Homo sapiens: one gene and its partners. The protein of the gene in region 1 purifies or fractionates together with the protein of each later gene. This does not show direct contact. Each region holds a gene or a part of one and is shown in the gene's direction. Other genes may lie near its edges.

The links.
Region 2: the proteins of MSLN (region 1) and ZBTB43 fractionate together in Homo sapiens (co-fractionation; one large-scale study listed by BioGRID). This does not show direct contact.
Region 3: the proteins of MSLN (region 1) and RALA fractionate together in Homo sapiens (co-fractionation; one large-scale study listed by BioGRID). This does not show direct contact.
Region 4: the proteins of MSLN (region 1) and MRPL1 fractionate together in Homo sapiens (co-fractionation; one large-scale study listed by BioGRID). This does not show direct contact.

The regions. Positions count from the first base shown.
Region 1 is NC_000016.10:766,548-769,362, forward strand, and holds the end of MSLN (mesothelin isoform 1 preproprotein), read left to right. Parts: intron 1-96; coding exon of another isoform or gene 97-120; coding exon 121-263; intron 264-337; coding exon 338-465; intron 466-828; coding exon 829-923; intron 924-1,831; coding exon 1,832-2,018; intron 2,019-2,100; coding exon 2,101-2,186; 3' UTR 2,187-2,315; downstream 2,316-2,815. UniProt on the Homo sapiens protein: Membrane-anchored forms may play a role in cellular adhesion. Megakaryocyte-potentiating factor (MPF) potentiates megakaryocyte colony formation in vitro.
Region 2 is NC_000009.12:126,829,040-126,832,539, forward strand, and holds part of ZBTB43 (zinc finger and BTB domain-containing protein 43), read left to right. Parts: intron 1-3,447; 5' UTR 3,448-3,470; coding exon 3,471-3,500. UniProt on the Homo sapiens protein: May be involved in transcriptional regulation.
Region 3 is NC_000007.14:39,689,572-39,693,071, forward strand, and holds part of RALA (ras-related protein Ral-A precursor), read left to right. Parts: intron 1-810; coding exon 811-1,019; intron 1,020-3,500. UniProt on the Homo sapiens protein: Multifunctional GTPase involved in a variety of cellular processes including gene expression, cell migration, cell proliferation, oncogenic transformation and membrane trafficking.
Region 4 is NC_000004.12:77,879,830-77,883,329, forward strand, and holds part of MRPL1 (large ribosomal subunit protein uL1m precursor), read left to right. Parts: intron 1-3,412; coding exon 3,413-3,500.

The DNA.
Region 1 (2,815 bases):
GTGGGGGACAAAGCCTGAGGTTGGGCGGGCCTGGGGTCAGGGGCACGGCCTGAGGTTATGCTGGTGGTGGAGGGATACATCTCTCCTTGCCACAAGGCTCCTCGGCGGCCCCTCCCACAGGTGGCCACCCTGATCGACCGCTTTGTGAAGGGAAGGGGCCAGCTAGACAAAGACACCCTAGACACCCTGACCGCCTTCTACCCTGGGTACCTGTGCTCCCTCAGCCCCGAGGAGCTGAGCTCCGTGCCCCCCAGCAGCATCTGGTGAGTCCCCAGAACTCTGCCCGGCAAGGTGGGTCCGTGTGCTGGCGCTCACTGTCCACCCACCGTGTCCCCAGGGCGGTCAGGCCCCAGGACCTGGACACGTGTGACCCAAGGCAGCTGGACGTCCTCTATCCCAAGGCCCGCCTTGCTTTCCAGAACATGAACGGGTCCGAATACTTCGTGAAGATCCAGTCCTTCCTGGGTGAGCCAGGGAGTCCCTGGCCAGGGTGGGCAACACAACGGGGGAAGCACAGACTCCACTCGGGGGTGCCAGGCCTTTGCCTCGCCGGGCCGTCTGCTGCCAGGGTAACTGGGTGGTCACCCGCCCTCTGCCCCCCGGGGTGTGTATGGCCTTAGGGGCTGTGGGTTCTGACCCCAGCTCGGGGCGCCAGCCACCTCCAGGGTCTCCCACGCCTGGGGGTCAGGCGGCTAGGCAAACCCAGGCCCTGGAATCCCTAAGGAAAAAGGGAAGCCCTGTAAGGCAAGTGGGCTTCCTGCAGCCTGTGGTCAAGGGCCTGGGGGTGTGAGGTGAGGCCTCAGCTCGGGCCCCTCTCCCGGCGGGCAGGTGGGGCCCCCACGGAGGATTTGAAGGCGCTCAGTCAGCAGAATGTGAGCATGGACTTGGCCACGTTCATGAAGCTGCGGACGGATGCGGTGCTGGTATGGCGAGCGGGAGGAGGGGCGTGTGGAGGAGGGGCCCGTGGAGGAGGGGCGAGTGGGAGGAGGGGCGCGTGGAGGGGGGGCGTGTGGGGGGGTGCGTGGAGGAGGGGCGCGTGGAGGAGGGGCGCGTGGAGGGGGGAGCGTGGGGGGCGTGGAGGAGGGGCGCGTGGAGGAGGGGCGCGTGGAGGGGGGAGCGTGGGGGGCGTGGAGGAGGGGCGCGTGGAGGGGGGAGTGTGGGGGGGCGTGGAGGAGGAGGGGCGCATGGGGGGGTGTGGAGGGGGGCGCGTGGAGGAGGGGCGCGTGGAGGGGGGAGCGTGGGGGGCGTGGAGGAGGGGCGCGTGGAGGGGGGCGCGTGGGGGGGGCGCATGGGGGGGCGTGGAGGGGGGTGCGTGGAGGAGGGGCGCGTGGAGGAGGAGGGGCGCATGGGGGGGTGTGGAGGGGGGCGCGTGGAGGGGGCACGTGGAGGGGTCGCGTGGAGGAGGGGCGCGTGGAGGGGGCCGTGTGGGGGGGCGTGGAGGGGGGCGCGTGGAGGAGGAGGGGCGCATGGGGGGGTGTGGAGGGGGGCGCGTGGAGGGGGCGCGTGGAGGAGGGGCACATGGAGGGGGGGGCAAGTGGAGAAGCCCTGGTGGAGGGGCGCATGGAGGAGGGGCCAACGGGGGGTGGGAGGGCGTGTAAGGCGGGTCTGCAGTGGGGCGAGGCCTTAGGAAGGGCAGCATCTTCCCGTGTGGTGGGGCCTAGGGAAGGGCAGCCATTGAGCTGAGGTCAGCTGGCCGGAGACCTCCGAAGTCTGGAGAGGCTGCGGTGGGCATCTGTGGGTGGGGCAGTTTGGACACAGGAGAGCCTGGCAGCCCTCTGGCGGCGCTGAGGGAAGGAGACCCTCCTTGATGGCTGCCCGGGGTCTCTGGCAGCCGTTGACTGTGGCTGAGGTGCAGAAACTTCTGGGACCCCACGTGGAGGGCCTGAAGGCGGAGGAGCGGCACCGCCCGGTGCGGGACTGGATCCTACGGCAGCGGCAGGACGACCTGGACACGCTGGGGCTGGGGCTACAGGGCGGCATCCCCAACGGCTACCTGGTCCTAGACCTCAGCATGCAAGGTGGGCGGGGCGGCCAGGCCAGGGCTGGGGGCAGAGCTGGGGGCGTGGAGGTGGGCGCTCTGAGTCACCCCTCTCTCTGTAGAGGCCCTCTCGGGGACGCCCTGCCTCCTAGGACCTGGACCTGTTCTCACCGTCCTGGCACTGCTCCTAGCCTCCACCCTGGCCTGAGGGCCCCACTCCCTTGCTGGCCCCAGCCCTGCTGGGGATCCCCGCCTGGCCAGGAGCAGGCACGGGTGGTCCCCGTTCCACCCCAAGAGAACTCGCGCTCAGTAAACGGGAACATGCCCCCTGCAGACACGTCTTGTGGCCTCCGAGGACTTTCTGTGACCCCACCAGCGTGGCCCCTCTCCCTCTGGTCTTGCGCCCCCAGGCCAGGTGGGGGCCCTTGGAGGTCTTCCTGACCCTGCTGCCACTGTGCTGAGGGCCAGGCCAGCACTCAGGGTGGCCCCAGGAGCCGGTGGTGGGAGTCCTGTGCCCCTGTCCCCACAGGCTTGGCCCCGGCTAGGACATTCCCGGGCCCCCCTGCTCAGGCCCTGAGCACAGACACAGGCAGGACCACGACCGTGGACTTTATTCATGTCCAGCAGTGAAGTCTGTGGCCCCGGCCCCGGCCCCGGCCCCGGCCCCAGCCCCAACCCCAACCCCAACCCCGGCCCCGGCCCCGGCCCCGGCCCCAGCCCCAGCCCCAGCCCCAGCCCCAGCCCTCCGCAGGGCCCGGGCAGCGTCTTCCGTGGCCCGCCTGGGCCTGTGGTTGTGCGGGAGGCACCTTCTTAGGGCCTGGTCCTCAGTCCAGCTCC
Region 2 (3,500 bases), on another chromosome or scaffold:
TAAATGATATCCAGTCTTGTAAGAGTGTGCTAAGTAGACACTGTCATTGATTGTTGGTGAGGGTGTGACTTGGTGCAGGCTTTCTGGCAAGTAGTTTGGTAATATGTATCAGAAAATTTTTTAAAAACATTAGCCAGGCATGGTGGCATGCCTATAGACCCAGCTGCTTGAGAGGCTGAGGCAGAAGGATTGCTTGATGACCCAAGAGTTCAAGGCTATGTCAAATGCACAGCCCCTTAACCCAGCAGTTCCACTGGTAGAAATTAAGCTATAAATATTTCCAAAGGTATGCAAGATAGTTATGCAAAAATATCTATTGTAGCATTGCTTGTGATTTTACAACCCCTGCCAACTGAAATTCTGTAAGAGGAGAACTGCTTACATTACGATACATCCATATAATAGAAAGCTATGTGGCCATTAAACAGAATGAGTTAGCTCTTTTTGTGCTAATGTGGGAAGATCTCCAAGATATATTAAGTGACAAAAGCTAAGTGTAGAATAAAATGTAGGTAATGAACCCAGTTGAGTAGGGATTTTTAAAGGATGTATATGATTTATTCTGATATATGCACAGGGAAGTTTCTAGAGATATAAACAGGAGTTTAATGGTGATTTCCTTTGGGGGAGACTAGGAATAAATGATGGGAGAGATTTTTTTTTTTTACACCTTTCTATAATTTTTTTTTACATGTGCATGTGTTATATCCCACACCCCCTTTTTCAAATAGCTAAAAGCAAAATTCTACAGTGGTGAGATCTAGCAGAGAATCTGTTCACCCAGATGTAGTTTCCAGAATTTACATACTTTTAGTCTACTCATTTATATAGTCAACTTTTCTTTTTGAAATTACGAATACCTAAATCATTTATTTCATGATCTATTTTTGTTTTAAATTACTATGAAATGTTTTAAGATGTATAAAACGATAAATTAATACTTCACTCTAAAAACACAGTCTTTTAAAATTATTAGTGCCTAATCTGGCATTTTTGGCATCTTAGAGGAGGCAGAGTGATGTGATAAGAAAAATCACATAGACTTTAGAGTCATCCAGACCTGGATTCACATCTCAACTTAATAAAAACTAGCTTTTAACCTTGGGAAAGTTACTTAAAATAGCTGAACTTCAGACGATCAAGCCCTACATTTGCAGAGTAATTATAAAGATTAAGTGGGAAAAAAGGTATCAGTCCCTAACATATCATAATTACTCAAGAAACCTTCATTTCTTCTCTTGTCATCTCTCCCTATCCCTCGAAGATGACTTTCAGTCTTTGTCTGGGTTGTCTGGCTCTTTTATATCATACTTAGAAAACTTGGGGCTGGGCGCAGTGGCTCACGCCTGTCATTCCAGCACTTTGGGAGGCCAGGCGGGCAGATCGCTTGAGTTCAGGAATTCGAGACCAGCCTGGACAACGTGGCGAAACCCTGTCTCTGCAAAAAATACAAAAATTAGCCGGATGTGGTAGTAGTGCATGCCTGAAGTCCCAGCTACTCAGGAGGCTGAGATGGGAGGATCACCTGAGCCCAGGAGTTTGAGACTGCAGTGAGCTGTGATCACACCACTGTACTCCAGCCTGGGTGACAAGAGTGAGACCCTGTCTCAAAAAAACAAAAGAAGACTTGGTAATTTAGCAATGTTTGGATGTAGTATCAGAGCAAGGTGACATATGCAGTAATAAATCGTTTGGGTGGTTTTTTTTTTTTTGCTTTAATTACAGAATTTGGGGGAATTACAGAGTATGGGCAGGATCTCTAGCACAGCTCATCTTGTGTGCCATTGTTAGGAATTGTTTCTAATGCTTGACTTACCCCACAGAATATATTTACAGTAGCAACACAGGCAATGCCTTAGTCTTCGTTATAACTTTGTCTTCTGATCGACTCTGTTCAGTAGCAGGGACTTACTATCCTCTTTGGTCTATAGACAGTTTGGAGATCACCAGATAAGAAGCATACCTCACCTTGCAGTTTCATTCAGTTTCATATTCTCAGAAGCTCTTAAAGGGCTAAAATTCTGGCAGCAGCTGGAGAAATCTGCATTGCTCAGGGCCTGAGTGACTGTGCCCCTTTAGTGCTGAAAGACCAGAGGTGCAATTGTCCCGTCCTCACTGCTCAAGCCCCCAGGCCCCTCACTCCCTGACTGTACTCTAGTCTAATGGTCTCCTTTCAGTTCCTTGCAATTGCCAAATGCATTCCTGCCTCGGAGCCTTTGCGTATGCTTTTCCTTGTTCCCACCATTCTGTTCTCCCACCCTCACCACAACCTGTCAAATATCAGTTAAATCTGAGGCTTAAAAGTTCTGTCATTTTGAGCTGGGCATAGTGGTATATACCCATAGACCCAGCTACACAAGAGGCTGAGGTGAGAGGATCACCTGAGCCCAGGAGTTTGAGACTACAGTAGCTATGATGGTGCCACTACACTCCAGCCTGGGTAAAAGAGTGAGACCTCATCTCTTTAAAAAAAAATTCTGCCAGGAGCGGTGGTTCATGCCTATAATCCCAACACTTTAGGAGGCTGAGGCTGGTGGATCACTTGAAGCCAGGAATTCAAGACGAACCTGGGCAAAAAGTGAGACCCCTGTCTCTACAAAAAAAATTAATTTTTTAAAAAAACTAGCTGGGCAGCTGGCGTGGTGGCTCACACCTGTAATCCCAGCACTTTGGGAGGCTGAGGTGGGTGGATCATGCGGTCAGGAGTTCGAGACCAGCCTGGCCAACATAGTGAAACCCCATCTCTACTAAAAATACAAAAAAAAAAAATTAACCAGGTGTAGTGGCGGGCGCCTATAATCCCAGCTACTTGGGAGGCCAAGGCAGGAGAATCGCTCGAAACCAGAAGGTGGAGGTGGCAGTGAGCCGAGATCACACCATTGCACTCCAGCCTGGGCAACAAGAGCAAAACTCTATCTCAAAAAAAAAAAAAAAAACTAGCTGGACATGGTGGCATGTACATACAGTCCCAGCTACTCAGGAGGCTGAAGCAGGATGATAGCTTGATTACCCAAGAGTTCAAGGCTGCAGTGAACTATGATTGTGCCACTGCACTCCAGCCTGGGCAACAGAGCAAGACCCCATCTCGTTTAAAAAAAAATTATATTATTTGAATGGGTATCTTGTTTGTTTTAACTGTAAATATTTACAGTACTTGGTTTTACTTGGGAGATTTGTATAGCTTACAAATCTTGTCCCTATGGATTCAGTTCTCTTACCCACAGACACAGAACCAAAATCAGGAGTTCCACAAGGAGTGGTGGTGAGTCCTGCCTTTGGCAAACACGCACCTGCAAGCTTTGCTCTAGGGATTGAATCCCTTACCCAGTGGGGCCCATAGGCTAGAGGACTTTGTGGAACTTTGGAACTTGTCTTAACAATGGAGGAGGGGATAAAATAAGTTTATCTTTGGGCTGGAATTTGTACTAATTTTTCTTTCTCTTGTAGCACCGAACAAGATTTGTGATGAAATGGAGCCTGGAACAAACTCTTTTCGGGTA
Region 3 (3,500 bases), on another chromosome or scaffold:
AATAAAAAACCCACAAATGTCTGTGTGTAAATGAATACATGCTAACAATGATATCAAAAGATAGGCCGGGCCTGGTGGCTCACACCTGTGATCCCAACACTTTGGGAGACCAAGGCAGTAGGATTATTTGAGCCCAGGAGTTCAAGACCAGCCTGGGCAACATAGTAAGGCCTTGTCTGCGTACATATACACATACTTATCATCTGCCTGCCTACGGTTTATCAAGGTATATTAAAGTGAGATTTATGGGGCTGACGATAGGAGTGGGAATGTAAAGTTGTTGAATTGTACTATTTAAAAAATCAAAAGTTTGGGAAGAAGTCTCATAAAGTTTAAGATTTGACTTTCTGTTGAGTAGTGTAAATCACTTTATTGACTTAGTTCATTTTAGAAAAAGAAAGGATTTAATGATACTTTCAGTGCTTACCAAAATATTGACCTTTAAGTTATTTCCACAGTTCTAGCATGAAAATTTATATTCAGAGTTACATAGAAAAAAGACTATTATAAATTTGGTAAAATATATGTGTAATAGTTTTTGCAGGTATTGTGTTTTAAGGAAGAAAAGCTGTTTTCAAGCTGTAAACAGCCTAGAGGTAATAACTCAGCCCTCTCTGTTTGCAAATGAGGAAACCAAGAAATTGTCTAAAATTAAAATTAGTGTAGTTTTTACCATTGGAGGAATCTGGGCAAAGGGTATACAGAACTCTTCTTGTACTATTTTGGCAGCTTCACATGAATTTATAATTATTTCAAAATAAGTTTTGAAACGTAATAATTAAAAAATTGGTGTGTTTTTATCTTTTCTAGTTTGTGGAGGACTATGAGCCTACCAAAGCAGACAGCTATCGGAAGAAGGTAGTGCTAGATGGGGAGGAAGTCCAGATCGATATCTTAGATACAGCTGGGCAGGAGGACTACGCTGCAATTAGAGACAACTACTTCCGAAGTGGGGAGGGGTTCCTCTGTGTTTTCTCTATTACAGAAATGGAATCCTTTGCAGCTACAGCTGACTTCAGGTATGTCCTAGAGTAATGTTGTTGCTTGTGACATACTATACAACAATTTCTTCCCCAGAAACAAGTAGACAACTAGAGGTTCTAACTTGTTAGTCTTTTACTCTGTCTCTAATTGTGTTTATTCCCTTTTTGATATCAGTATATGACTCTCTCTACTGTGTTATGTACACACAGTTAGGATACTTTGCATAGTCTTACAGCTCTCCCGGTGTCACCTGTATTGGAGTTTGATTTTGTGACAGCTTCAGTTACCCAGAGTCTCTATGAGTTACTGAAGTATTTCTCTTTAGTGTAAACTACTACTGCCATAACAGTTCATACTTAGAGCACATAATGGAGCTTACTCAGGTTTTACATCTTTCTCTGTTAGTCATGGTTTCTTAGCACCTATGTAATGCTCAGTAGGCACGTTGCCATCCTCCTCAAAATATAGATGCCCTGATAGCACAGACTGAATTTTTTGTTTCTTTTTCTTATTACATGGGAACCTTCAGAATGAATGAATTTTTAATAGAAATAATATCTCTGTAGATGGGCACATTAGATTGTTATATAATATTTTTTATTATTTATTGTTTAATTAAAATCTGGAATCCATTTGGTTTTAGAGGAGGTGGTTTTGGTGAAGGGGAAAGAGGTGCTCCTCTATATTTAAGAGGTATTTGGCATAGAGTTCTTGCGTGGTCTTGCAAATACTACATGCATAAATCAAGTGTTCTTTAATTAAATGATACATATTTTTATTTCTGTGTGAAGTGTCTTACTTGATTATGGAGGACAGAAAAGAAGCATGCAATGTATCCTCTATTTTCAAGATTCACACAGCCTAGATGAATATATAAGGCATTTAACCAAGAGCAAGTTAGTGACAAAGTAGGAACATGGGCAGTGGTTAGTGCAGAGGATCCGGGAGGGGAAAGAAGCTGGGAAACCTTCATGAAATAGATGAGCTTGAAGAAAAGAAGGATTTTCACACATAAGGAAAGAGGGCATTTCAGGTGGGTGAGCAAAAAACTAAACCAAGGCTTTTACAGAGCATTCCTTTTTATGCACACTTGAAAATCTCAAGAACTTATTCTAAGAGAGCATTCTTTGCAAAAAGCAGGTAATTGAGAAACTCTGAAGTATAGATTTATTCATAAAGTTTGTTGGTTTCTATGAGGAAGAAATTTCATATATGATGACATGCAAGGGATGGCAGACTCTGGTAGCTTGTAATTGTGGGAGACATGTTGAAAGTTATATAAATGCCAATGCTTATTCATTCAGCAGATATTTGAGTGCTTATAATGTAGCAAGTCTTGTTCTAAGTAATGGAATAAATGTTATCACCATAGTCACCAAAGTCAAAGTGATATTTCAAGAGAATAAGGTATTTTCATGCAAGAATCTTGGGCTATTACTATTATAGAAAATAAGGATGATTCATTACTCTTAGGGCGTACCTCCAATGCCTCTGCCATAAATAAAAATGACCCTAGTGACTCACCAACAATATTGTTGGTGAAAGGCTTTTTTGAAAAGGTCTGAATGGTTACAGTGGGCACTCCACGTGGTCTAAACTGCAAGAGTAGCAAAAATAAATAAAACAGTAGCATAAATATCAGCTCCTCCCTTTAGCCTTCCTGGTCATCTCTGTGATCCACAAAATCCATTGCTTCCTCGTCTATATATGCAATGTCCTTGCTGCAGCTCCAGTATCACACTTAACACCTATTCCTTTCCTGTCTCAGTATCCCCAGTACCTATATATGCCATAGTTCATAGCATATAATCTATAGTAAGTACATGTTTAGTAAACATTTGTCTTGATTCAAAAACCTTTACCTTTTGGTTTTTACTTTCCTATGTCAAAAATGAAGTTGGACCAGATTGTACTTCCCTATTCTGAAATTCTGTAATAGCCTCTAAAACTGTATTTAAAGGGAGTATTATATTAAGCAAAATGTATATGAAGTTTATACCGTAGAATTACTTTTCTCTGACATCCAGCAAAGTTGCTAGTAAAACCAATCTATTAACTCTAAAAAAATAACATCTTCTCACCTCGGAACCCAGTAGGTCCAGGTTTTCTACAGCCGTGTTTCTGCCAGCATCAATCACACTATGCTTTTTCAGTATTGGTTTCCCTGCAGCACCTGACTCAGAGTAGCTTAGTAGGTATTTATTAAGAAATAAATTAATGACTATATATACACACATATGACCAGAGGTGCTAGAGTTACAAACACCTGAGTCAGTCTCACCTTCCAAGTGGTGAGACTGAGTGGCAGGTTAGTTGTTGTTAACAGCTTCATTCAGTGGCGATCATTAGAAAGTCAGGAAACAACAGATGCTGGAGAGGATGTGGAGAAATAGGAATGCTTTTACACTGTTGGTGAGAGTGTAAATTAGTTTAACCATTGTGGAAGACAGTGTGGCGATTCCTCAAGGATCTAGAATAGAAATACCATTTGACCCAGCGATCCCATTACTGGGTAT
Region 4 (3,500 bases), on another chromosome or scaffold:
GTCATCAGTCCAGAAGGACACCTGTGCCCCATTGAAAATGAGCATTGTCATTATCTAATATTCTGTTGAATTGCTCATTAGCTGGGAGGGTACTATTATTAGTGGTGGTAGTAAGGATTTACTGAGTACTAAAAGTGAGAATGGAATTATACGTTGAATTGGTTTTTGAGGTCTTTTTTAAAAAACTGTTTTATTATCATCCATTTCTTTCACATCAGTTTTATAGGACTTCATATTCATTTTCTTCCATAACAAATTGCCATCTCTGCCATAACAAATTACCACAAACTTTGAGGCTTAAAACTATACAAGTTTTTCATTTCACAGTTCAGTAGGCGAGTAGTCTGACATGGATCTCACTGGGCTAAAATCAAGGTATTGGCAGTTTATTTTCTGGAGGCTCTAGGGGATAATCCATTTCCTTGCAATCCCCAGCTTCAAGAGGCCACCCACATTCTTTAGCTCATGGCCCTCATCCTTCATCTTCAAAGCAATGGCTGGTTGCTTGAATTTCTTCAGTGTCATTTTCCCATATCTGTGTGATGCAGTTGGGAAGGGGAAAAGACTCTCACTTTTAAGGATGCATGTGATTAGATTGGGCCCACGTAGATAATCTAGGATAACTCTCCATCTCAAGGTCTTTAACCTTATCTCGTCTGCAAGGTCTTTTTTTTTTTTTTTTTGCCATGTAAGGTAATATATTCACAAGATTTGGGAATTAGGATATGGGTCTCTTTGAGGCATTATTATTCTGACTACCACAGAACCGGAACATCTTTCCAGAATACTATTACACTAATTTAAAACTTTTATGGTTAGAAGAGTACAGACATGATCTGAATTAATGCTGAGAAAATTACATCACCTCTAGTTCTTTTTATCTTCAAATTCTTATCTGCCATTACCTGGTAAATATATTTTCTTAGATATTTTGTAAGCACCTTGTTAGCTTTTGCTATGTAACAAACCACTCCACAATTATTTATCATTGCCCACATATCTATGGGTCAGCTGACATAGGCTGGGTTTGATGGATATCTCTGATGACCTTGGCTGGACTTGTAGTGCATCTGTAAGTTTGCAGGTAAGCTGAGAATCATCTCATGTAGCCTGGGGCTCTGTGGAGGCAGCTCTGTTCCACATGTTTCTCATCCTTCTACCTTTGAGCTAGCCTAGGCATGTTCTTCTAATGAAAAGGCAGAAATGCAAACATGAAAGTAGAAACATGTGAAACTTCTTTTGGCCTAAGCATAGAGCAGGGAAACTGTCATCTTTGCTTTATTCTGTCAGCCAAAAGTAGTCACATGGACAAATAAAGGGGCTGGGAAATATACTCCTCTTTAGTGGGAGGAACAGCAAAGTCATTTAGCAAAGGGCTTGAATGGAAAGGAGGTAAAGAATTGGGACCAATGATACAATTGACCCATACTCAAACTTCATATCCCCCAAACTTGAACTAATCTCTGTGACTGCCTCCCTCACCAGAAACCTGTTTTGCCCTCTTTATTTCTGATCTTAGTTAATGATTCTATTCTATGCCTAGTCACCCAAGCTAGATACCTAGGAAGTATTTTGGAGTCTTTATTCTCTCCTTTTCCCATCTTCAATATTTACTTTTTTTTTTTTTTTTTTTGAGACAGGGTCTCACTCTGTCACCTACCTGGAGTGCACTGACATAATCAGCTCACTGCAGTCTCAGACTCCTGAGCTCAGGTGATCCTTCCAAATCAGCCTCCTAAGTAGCTGGGACCACAGGTGTGTACCACTATGCCCAGCTAATTTTTTTGATTTGGTAGAGGCAGGGTCTTGCTATATTGCCCAGGCTGGTCTTGAACTCCTGGCCTCAAACAGTCCTCCTGCCTTGGCCTCCCAAAGTGCTGGAATTGCAGGCGTGAGCCCTCGTGCTTGGCCCAGTATTTAGCTTGACAAGTATTCTCTAATCTGCCATCTTTTCCAGTCTTATTACTGTTGCTACTCTGGTTCAGGTTCTCATATCTCTGAGAAGAAAGGGCGGGAACAGACTCTTAATTGTTTTCAATCCTACTTCCTTCAGGTCTCTCTCTTATATTGCAGCCAGAATACCTTGCCTAAAATACAGATGTTACTCCTGTTTACTGACTTCTTATTGCCTCTAGAGGATGCCCCCCTATGCTCTGTCTTTTCTAACCTCATCTTCCACTCTTGCCTGCCTTCTCTTTTACCGTTTTAGTTCAGAAGTCAGCAAACTTTGGCGAGTCAGCCAATCTTGTTTACCGACTATATTTGCACTACAGTGGCAGCGTTGAGTCATTGCAGCAGAGAACATATGGCTCACAAAGCTAAAACATTTACTATCTGGTCCTTTACAGAAAAAGTTTGCCAACTCTGCTCTAGTCATGTAGAACTTATAATAGCTTCCTTCTTATACCATTTTATTTTGTGCCTCAGTACTTTTTATTACGTTGTTTCTTTACCTGGCTAACTCTATTATTTTTTAAATAATGGCTTTATTAAGGTATCATATAATTACATATCACACAATTCACCCATTTAAAGTGTACAGTTCATTGGTTGTTAGTATACTCACAGTTGTGCAGCCATCACTGTAATCAGTTTTAGAGCATTTTCATTGCTTTCCCAGAGAACCCCATGCCCATGAGCATTCACTTCTTGTTCCCCTAACCTCCTCTTCTAGCACTAGACAACCACCAGATCTACTTTTTAGTCTCTTAGGTTTGCTCATTCTTGATATTTGGTATAAATGGAATAATATGTGGGCTTTTGTGACTGGCTTCTTTCACTTAGCTTAATGTTTTTAGGGTTCATGCGTGTTGTAGCATTGATCAATATTTCATTCTTTTATTAATTGTTGATTAATATTCCATTATATGGACATACCACATTTTATGTATCCATTCATCAGTTGATAGACATTTGGGTTGTTTCTACTTTTTGGCTGTTATGAATAATGCTGCTAAGAACATTTGTGTACTAGATTTTGTGTCATATGTTTTCACTTCTTTGGGGTGCTAACACTTCCTTATCCATTAAGAATTGACTTTGAGGTCATTTCCTCTATAACTTTTCCCTAGCCTCCTAGGCTGGATTGAATGTCTTTTCTGTCAGGCTCTGATGATGCTCTTGTATTACTACATTATATTGAAATGACCTGTTAGTATGTCTTTCTGATCTACTCCTCTGTAAGTTTCTGGAGAGCAGCATCAGTGCGGTAATTCAACTTATTCATGACTTCAGACATTGGAAAAGTTCACTTCATGTTTGTTGAATTAGAAAAACTGTAAAGCAGTCTATGCTTTTGAATTAAAATATAATTCATCCTTTGTTTTTTTTTCTCTTATGTACACTGGCTTTTTTTTTAAAAAAAATCTCTTAGGATATATATTGATATAACTCAACTTTATTTTCTTTTAAGGTCTGCAAAGAAAACAAAAAAAGGTGCTAAAGAAAAAACACCAGATGAGAAAAAAGATGAAATAGAAAAAATAAAAGCATATCCCTAT